Linked DNA regions of Homo sapiens. The protein of the gene in region 2 interacts with the protein of the main gene of each other region in a pairwise test. Each region holds a gene or a part of one and is shown on either strand. Other genes may lie near its edges.

The links.
Region 1: the proteins of PLEKHA1 (region 2) and CLDN14 interact in a two-hybrid assay, tested with the Homo sapiens proteins (one large-scale study listed by BioGRID and IntAct).

What each region holds. Positions count from the first base shown.
Region 1 is NC_000021.9:36,470,022-36,473,848, forward strand, and holds part of CLDN14 (claudin-14), read right to left. Parts: intron 1-3,827.
Region 2 is NC_000010.11:122,395,078-122,398,904, reverse strand, and holds part of PLEKHA1 (pleckstrin homology domain-containing family A member 1), read right to left. Parts: intron 988-3,827; coding exon 931-987; intron 1-930. UniProt on the Homo sapiens protein: Binds specifically to phosphatidylinositol 3,4-diphosphate (PtdIns3,4P2), but not to other phosphoinositides. May recruit other proteins to the plasma membrane.

The DNA.
Region 1 (3,827 bases), on a different chromosome or scaffold from region 2:
AGTAAAACAAAACAAAAACAAAAACAACAACAAAAAAACAATACCCCAAAAAACCCAGGTGGACATACAAACATTTCCTCAAGCCTTAGCTGATTGTTGGATGACTTATGGTTAAGTGTTCTGTGGGAACACTTTATCTAGGGGATGCAATGGATTGACCTGGTCCCCCAAAAGAGATATGTTGAAGTCTTCCCTGCTCCCAGTGCCTCAGAATGTGACCTTATTTGGAAATAGGGTCATTGCAGATGTAATTAGTTAAGATAAGGTCATACGTAAAATAGAGTGGCCCCTAAGCCAATAGGGCTGGTGTCCTTATAAGAGGATGGGCATATGAAGACGGAGATAGAAAGAACATGTGCAGACGGAGGCAGAGAGTGGAGCGAGAAGTTACCAAGTCAAGGAATGTGGAGGATCGCCAGCAACCCGCGGAGAATCGCCAGCAACCCGCAGAGGCCCAGCAGGAGGCCCAGGACAGATGCTCCCTCACAGCCCTGGAAGGAACCAGCCTGCCCACACCTTAGTTTCAAGCTTCCAGCCTTCAGAATCATGACAGAATAAATTTCTGTTGTTTCAGGCCTCCCAGGTTGTGGTGCTTTGTCATGGCAGCCCCAGGAAACAAACACAGCAGAGTAGCTGAATGGTGGCACGGGGAATTACAGAGAAAATGCTCGGCCAGGCCCCATGGCACAGGCCTATAATCCCAACACTTTGGGAGGCTGAGGTGGGAGGATCACTTGAGCTGAGGAGTTCAAGACCAGCCTGGTCAACATGGTGAAACCCTATTTCCACTAAAAATAAAAAAAAATTAGCTGGGCATGGTGGCTCAAGCCTATAATCCCAGCTACTTTGGAAGCTGAGGTGGGAGGATGGCTTGAGCCTGGGAGGCATAGATTGCAATAAGCAGAGATTGTGCCACTGCACTCCAGCCTGAGTGAGAGAGCAACATCGTATTTCAAAAAGCAAACAAACAAAAAAACCTCATTTGTGATTATAAGAACTGCGTCCCCTTCCAGGACAGGCATTGAGTGTGATCTGGTGGCTTCACATTTGTCATTGATAAAAACAGGCCAGGTGCAGTGGCTCACACCTGTAATCTCAACATTTGGAAGGCCAAGGTGGGAGGACTGCATGATTCCAGGAGTTCGAGGCCATTCCTGAGCAGCATAGTGAGATCCTGTCTCTACAAAAAACAAACAAACATAAAAACAAAAAACAAAGCCATGGTTAGCTTCATGTCTCAAAGTGTGGAGGACAAAATCTAAGGAAAAGGTAGAGGACATGGAGAAAGAAGAATCTGGAAAGTCCCCTGCAAATTTGAAAATTCAAGTGCAAACACAATCTATAGTAAGTAAGCCATATAGTAATCAAATGACTCAGCTTCTCCAGGCTTAAAAAGTGTGTGAATTCACTTAGCTCACAGAGAGTTTGGGGGGGCTCATGTCTCCAGCTTGTGTGCAATTGGCTGGGGTATAATTGGTGACTGACCTTTTCAGGCTGGGTGTCTGGTTTTCTTAAGTCAACATGTCTTGATTTCATAGAGCATAAAAGCCCCAAATTTGGGGCAGAGTCCAGATTTGAATAAGGTGACTCAGAAGCCTGCTGAAGCTTTACCTTGGAAATCCAGCAGAGCCCACTAGGCTCCGCCTTTAGTCAGGACTTACAGCAAAATAGAAAAAGAAAGCAAACCCCAAACAAGCAATAGGACATTGTCACACCTGGCTGAAAACCTTCATGAATTAGACAACTATTCTGTGAATTTCGTAAGCCTCTGAAAATTATTTACTTGAGAATTGAACTGGGGATAAACTGCAGTGGTTAAAATGTGTCAAATGAAAACATAAGGCTAAGATTTTCTAATGGTAAGGAAAATACTATTAAACATGAGGTTTAAAACTCATTCTCTGTAAATTTAGCCTTTGAAGCCCAGGTGCTCCAAAGCAGTTAGTTGTTAATGATAAGAGTAAAAACAGTCATAGTTAAAGTTCCAGAGTGTTTATGATATGCCAAACATGTGCTAAGTGCTTCTGTGGGCATGCAATGAACTCTTAAACAAATCGCAATGCGCATTTTGCCATCTTTATTTACAGATAGGGAAACTGAAGTGTAGAAAGGTTACATAACTTGTCCAAGGTTACGTCTGGGCTGAATTAGGGAGACCAAACAGGAGGTTCTTGTGATCTTTCAGGTAAGAGATGCCAGGAGGCCGAGCCAAGGTGGTGGAAATAAAGGTGGGTGCCAGGAAGAGGTCAGTTTCTATATTCAGGTGAGGCTAGCGGGATGTGCTGATGGTTTAGCTGCGGGGTGTGAGACACAGGTGCCTAAGGTTATTGTCTTGGGCAACTGGAGGAATGGAGTTGCCACTTATTGAGAGCTTGAAGAGGGTTGGAGATCTGGGTTTGGAGGATGTGATGATCAATTTTTTGTGTCAACTTGGCTGGGCCATGGGGTGCCCAGATATATGATTGAACACTATTCTTCATGTTTCTGTGAAGTTAGTCCTTGGACAAGGTTAACATTGAAAGCAGATTGCCCTCCATAGTGTGGGTGGGCCACACCCAGTCAGGTGAAGGCCAGACTGGAACCAGAAAAAACTGGTGTCTCCATCAGCTCAGGCTGCCACAACAAAATACCACAGACTTGCTGGATTAAGCCACAGAAATTAATTTTCTCACAATTCCGGAGGCTGGAAAGTCCAAGACCAAGGTTCTGGCTGCTTGGGTTCCTGGTGGAAATTCACCTGACGTCTTCTTTGCATGCAGGCAGAGGAAATCTTTCTCTCTTTCCCTTCTTTTTAGAGCACGAATCTCATTGTGAGGGCACCCACCCTCATGACCTCATTGAACCCTAATGACCTCCCAAATGTCCCGTCTCCAAATACTATCACATCGGGGCTTAGGGCTCCAACATAGGAATTTTGGGAGAATGCAAATGTTTAGTCCATAACATGCAGCTTCACCTGAGCAAGAAACTCTCTCCAACAGACTGTGTTTGACCTTTATTTCCAACATCAGCCCTTCTCAGCTCTATAGCAGGCTGCCTTCCAACTGAAACTGCAGTGTCCGTGATCCTGGGTCTCCAAACTGCTAGCCCACCCTGCAGAATTTCATTTTATAGATGGGCTCTTGCTATATTGCCCAGGCTGGTCTTGATCTCTCAGGCTCAAGTGATCCTCCCACCTCAGCTTCCTGAGTAGCTGGGACTACAGGCATGTGCCATCACACTTGGCTAATTTCTAAAAATGTTTTATAGAGATGGAGGTCCCACTATGTTGCCCAGCCTGGTCTTGAACTCCTGGGCTTAAGCAATCCTCCAACCTTGGCCTCCCAAGGCTGTTGGAATTACAGGTGTGAGCCACTGTGCCTGGCCCACCCTGCAGATTTTGGACTTGCCAGCCTTGAGAATCATGCAAGCCAATTCCTTAGAATAAATAGATCTCTTTCTATATAAATGCATATTCGATTGGCTCTGTTTCTCTGGAGAACTCTGACTGATACAGAGGATGAAGGGCAGAAGAGAGGAATTTTCTTTTGGACTTGTTCAGTTTGAGATGTCTGTGCCTACCCACCTGGGGATAACCATGGTTGCATATGTAAGTGCAGGGTTCAGGGAGGGACTGAACTGGAGAAGTCTGTTTGTGTCACCACCGCATGGAGATGGGATTAAAATATGGGATGGAGTCTCTTAGGAGGGAACGTTAGATAGAGAGGAGCAGGGGCTCCAGGGCTGATTCTAGGAACCCTCCAACATCAGGGGAGGGATGAGGATAGAGGTAGGAAGAGGAGCCAGCCACGGGCTGTAGGAATGGGCGATAGTGAACGGTCAACCCA
Region 2 (3,827 bases):
TGTGTAATCTTTATTGTCCAAGGGCTCTTTTCTTTTCTTTTTGGTCAATGAGAATGAATACCTCTACTGTAATACTAATATAAAGTATTTTATTTATATAACATCTATCTTCTAAACAGAGGCACATTTGTAAATTGGTCTTCTGTTGAAGTGATCTACCTTTGCCAACAGATCTCAGTATATGCATAACAGTACCCATATTATTTAATAATACTGTTGCTACCTTTTGCATCTCATATATAAGTAATCAACAAACTTTTATTACTTTTATGTAACACACATGCACACACACACACACACACACACACACAAACCCATAGGGTTAGCACCTCAGCATCACTTAGTTCCCTAAACATTAATAGAAGAAAATAAGAAAAAAATGTACCTGACAAACATAAAATCAAAATTTTAAAAAATAAAAAATAGTATTGCAAAATTACCAGAAAAACAAATAAGAAAACAGAAATGAAAAGAGACAAAGTGAAAAGAGGGGGAAAATCATCCTTTCAACATGAAAATGGTCCATATTTTCCTCAAAATAAAACATTAAGAAACAAAGTATCAAAGACAATGGGATTTAAAAGTTGAAAACAGTCTAAATAAACATAATACAGACTTAGAAAAATCTCCAGACTTTCTCAAGATAGAATTTGTTTCACTGATTTCTCCCTTTCTGATGTTCATATACCTGATCATAAAAGTTAATGTTAACTTTTGCAATTTGCCACATCCTGTAAGTTAAAATCATATTCTTCATAACTGTATCGATTTAAAGAATTTCCTAAACGTAGTAATCAGGTACCATTTCAGTATGATAGGAATCTGAACATCACTGTTAAAGGACATGGAAAGGAAACTGCTGCTTCTATTCATACTCTCATTCACAGGGATTTTAATTCACACGAGTATAAGACAATGTATAAAGACTACCTTTGAAATGTAGGTAAGCTTAATGGCTCCAACACGTGATGATCCAGAAGGTAGGTTCTAGAAACAAAGTATTAATATATACTTAATATCCAATATTATGAATTCATTTTATAATATAATGTTCCACATATACTTCTGAAAAGTTAAAAACTCAATTTTTTAATATCACATTTTACAAATGAACTTTTCTTCTGTTCAAATTTTTACTAGGTCTGAAATCAAGTCCATAGCTTGGATAACAAAACTGAATCCTACTCTGTTCCATTATCATGCATTCTATGACTAAAAGGCTATTTTTATCACTGGAGCTAAACTAATACTTTCTCATGAGCTTAAAAAGCCATGAACAAGATCAGATTTTGTTCCTGAAAGCAAGGGGGAAATATTTACAGGCAGAAAACAAATATAATTGTAAGATACTTAAAAAGACTATACATATTACTTTGTTCTATTAAAATTTCTTTATCAAGTATCTCTTGACAAAAATGGACTGCATTTCCCCCCATTTAAATGGTTTACTGTTTTTTATGCCATATTAATCTACATTGATACTTTTTTTTCCACAAAAAAATGTTTGCTTCTCTTTATCATATGCAGGGAATGTAGGCACTTTCACACACAGTATTTTCATTCTTCCCGTAAGTTTCAGATGTGGTTTGCATCAAAAGAGCTAAAGGTAAACATAGAGGGAGAATCATCTCTGGTTGAAGCTATCCAGAAAGACTGAAGTGATGAACAACATTTAGGCTGGAGGTTAAGGAAAATTTTGAAACACAAAAAGCAGGGGAGAATATTCCAAGCAGAGAAAATGGACAAACTATAGCAAACAATGGAAGATGCACAGCTCTGTACTAGAAAGAGAGAGGGGGGCTATGTGGGGCTGTAATGCAGTGTCCTGTAAGATTGTAGTACAAAATGGTGGTCTGAAAACTTGAACTGAGAACCTAATCATAGAGGACCTAAATAAAAAAGTAGCAAAGAATTTATATCGTAGAGAATTTGAGGCCAACGAAGAAGGCTTATGAGCAGATCTGGAATCAAAATTATGCTCTTTTTATAATATATCTTATAATAAACTGAAGGGATTATAGAAGAGGAAGATAGAGGTAGGAAAACCAGACAAAAGAATCTGGGGAAAACAAATCAAGAATATAAATTTCATTTCTATGATAGAAGACTGATAAAAGACTGATAGAAGATTTCAGAAGTAAAAATGAAAACATTAGTTTTAGTTGATTTTGAAAATTATTTCTGCTGGAGATAAGACAGGATCAACTTTTCAACTGACTTTATAATAACGTACTTAAAAATATAAAAATCTATTGGCTTGTTCTAATGAATGATTAGGAGGTAACTGGAAGCCTAGACATTTCAAAGACTTAAGAGTCCCAAACATGAACTGCTTATTGTTGACAGGGACAGATCTTTTAAAAACTTTCACACCTATATATTGTAAAACTCCATTAATTATGTTCTGCTTTAAACTATATACTACGTACAAGCTTCCAAATATAAATCATCAATAGTAAATATGCATATAAAATAAAATTATAATTCATTAATGTATAACATTAAAAAGCTATTTGTATTCTTATGTATAACGTTTTAGATTTATGGGTTTTTGGTTTTTAACTTTAAAGAAGGAAAAGAAATGTAAATATGTCTTCAAGAATCTCTAACTACCACCAAAGTGATTTTTTCAAAAACTGTTACCCTTCCATTTAAGGGTAATAATTTATTTCTTTTCAGTTTTTCATGAGCCTATTATTTTAACTGCTGAATAGAGCTCTAAGCCTTTGTGGAAGGAAGACAAATGAGAAACCAAAGCATGACATAAAGTGTCACAGTAATAGTAGTACACTATGGGGAAATTTAAGTAGCTGAGAGAAAAACAATATTCAAAATACGCAGTTTCTGTGGACTAGTATGATTACCATCAGGTTCGACTGGAAAAAAATGAGATTCAAAATTTGTTACTTGACAATGAACAAGAAATAACAAACTAATAGAACATTTAAGAAAAAAAGGGAAATAGGCCATTTGTTGATTATGAGTTCCTAAACTCATTTTGCCAAATACTTTTTCGAATATCTTCAAATGCACTCCCTCGTACAGCAACTTAATTATTTCATTCTCCATGATTACCAACCTCCTGGACAAAACACAGGAAGCCCCAAAGTGATCCCTAATAAACACTAGAAAGAATTTTTAAACCCATGGTTAGTGGTAAAGGAAGCAGTGGTCAGGGGAAGAAGTGGCTTCCTAATAATAGAGGAATCAAACTAATTTTCTTTCTTTACCAAGGTTATTATGATCAGTATAACCATGTTATTATACTTTGACATAAGCAACTAGATTGAACCATATGACATTGCCATTTTTTTAGTAATTCAAAATGGCTGTATATTAGCAATTTCATATGGTTCAATCTAATTGCTTATGTCAAGATGCAATAACACGGTTATACTGAACATAATAACCTTGATAAAGAAAGAAAATAATATAATAATCTTAGCAAGACATTTTACTAAAGTTTTCAAGAGTAGGTATGTCTTGATTATTACATTTAAAAGTGACACCAAGTTGGTACTAATGGCTAATACACTGGCTGGCAGAATCAAGATTTCCTAAGTTGGAAAGAAGATATAAAATTAATAAGAACAAACTAAAAAATATTTAAATTCTGTACTTAAAAAAAAAACTGGCACTGTGTCCAGAAAAGCCAATGCATTAATTCTAACATAGAGATCTGGATTTTAAAAGTTTATGTGGACAAGACCTAGCTGAGTGCTATAGCCAAAGTGATCTAGTCTCCAAACACGCCATAGGCTCTCTTGCTTTGATCTCTGCCCACACTGTTCTTTGAGCACTGGAATACTCAACTTTTCCATCTCTTA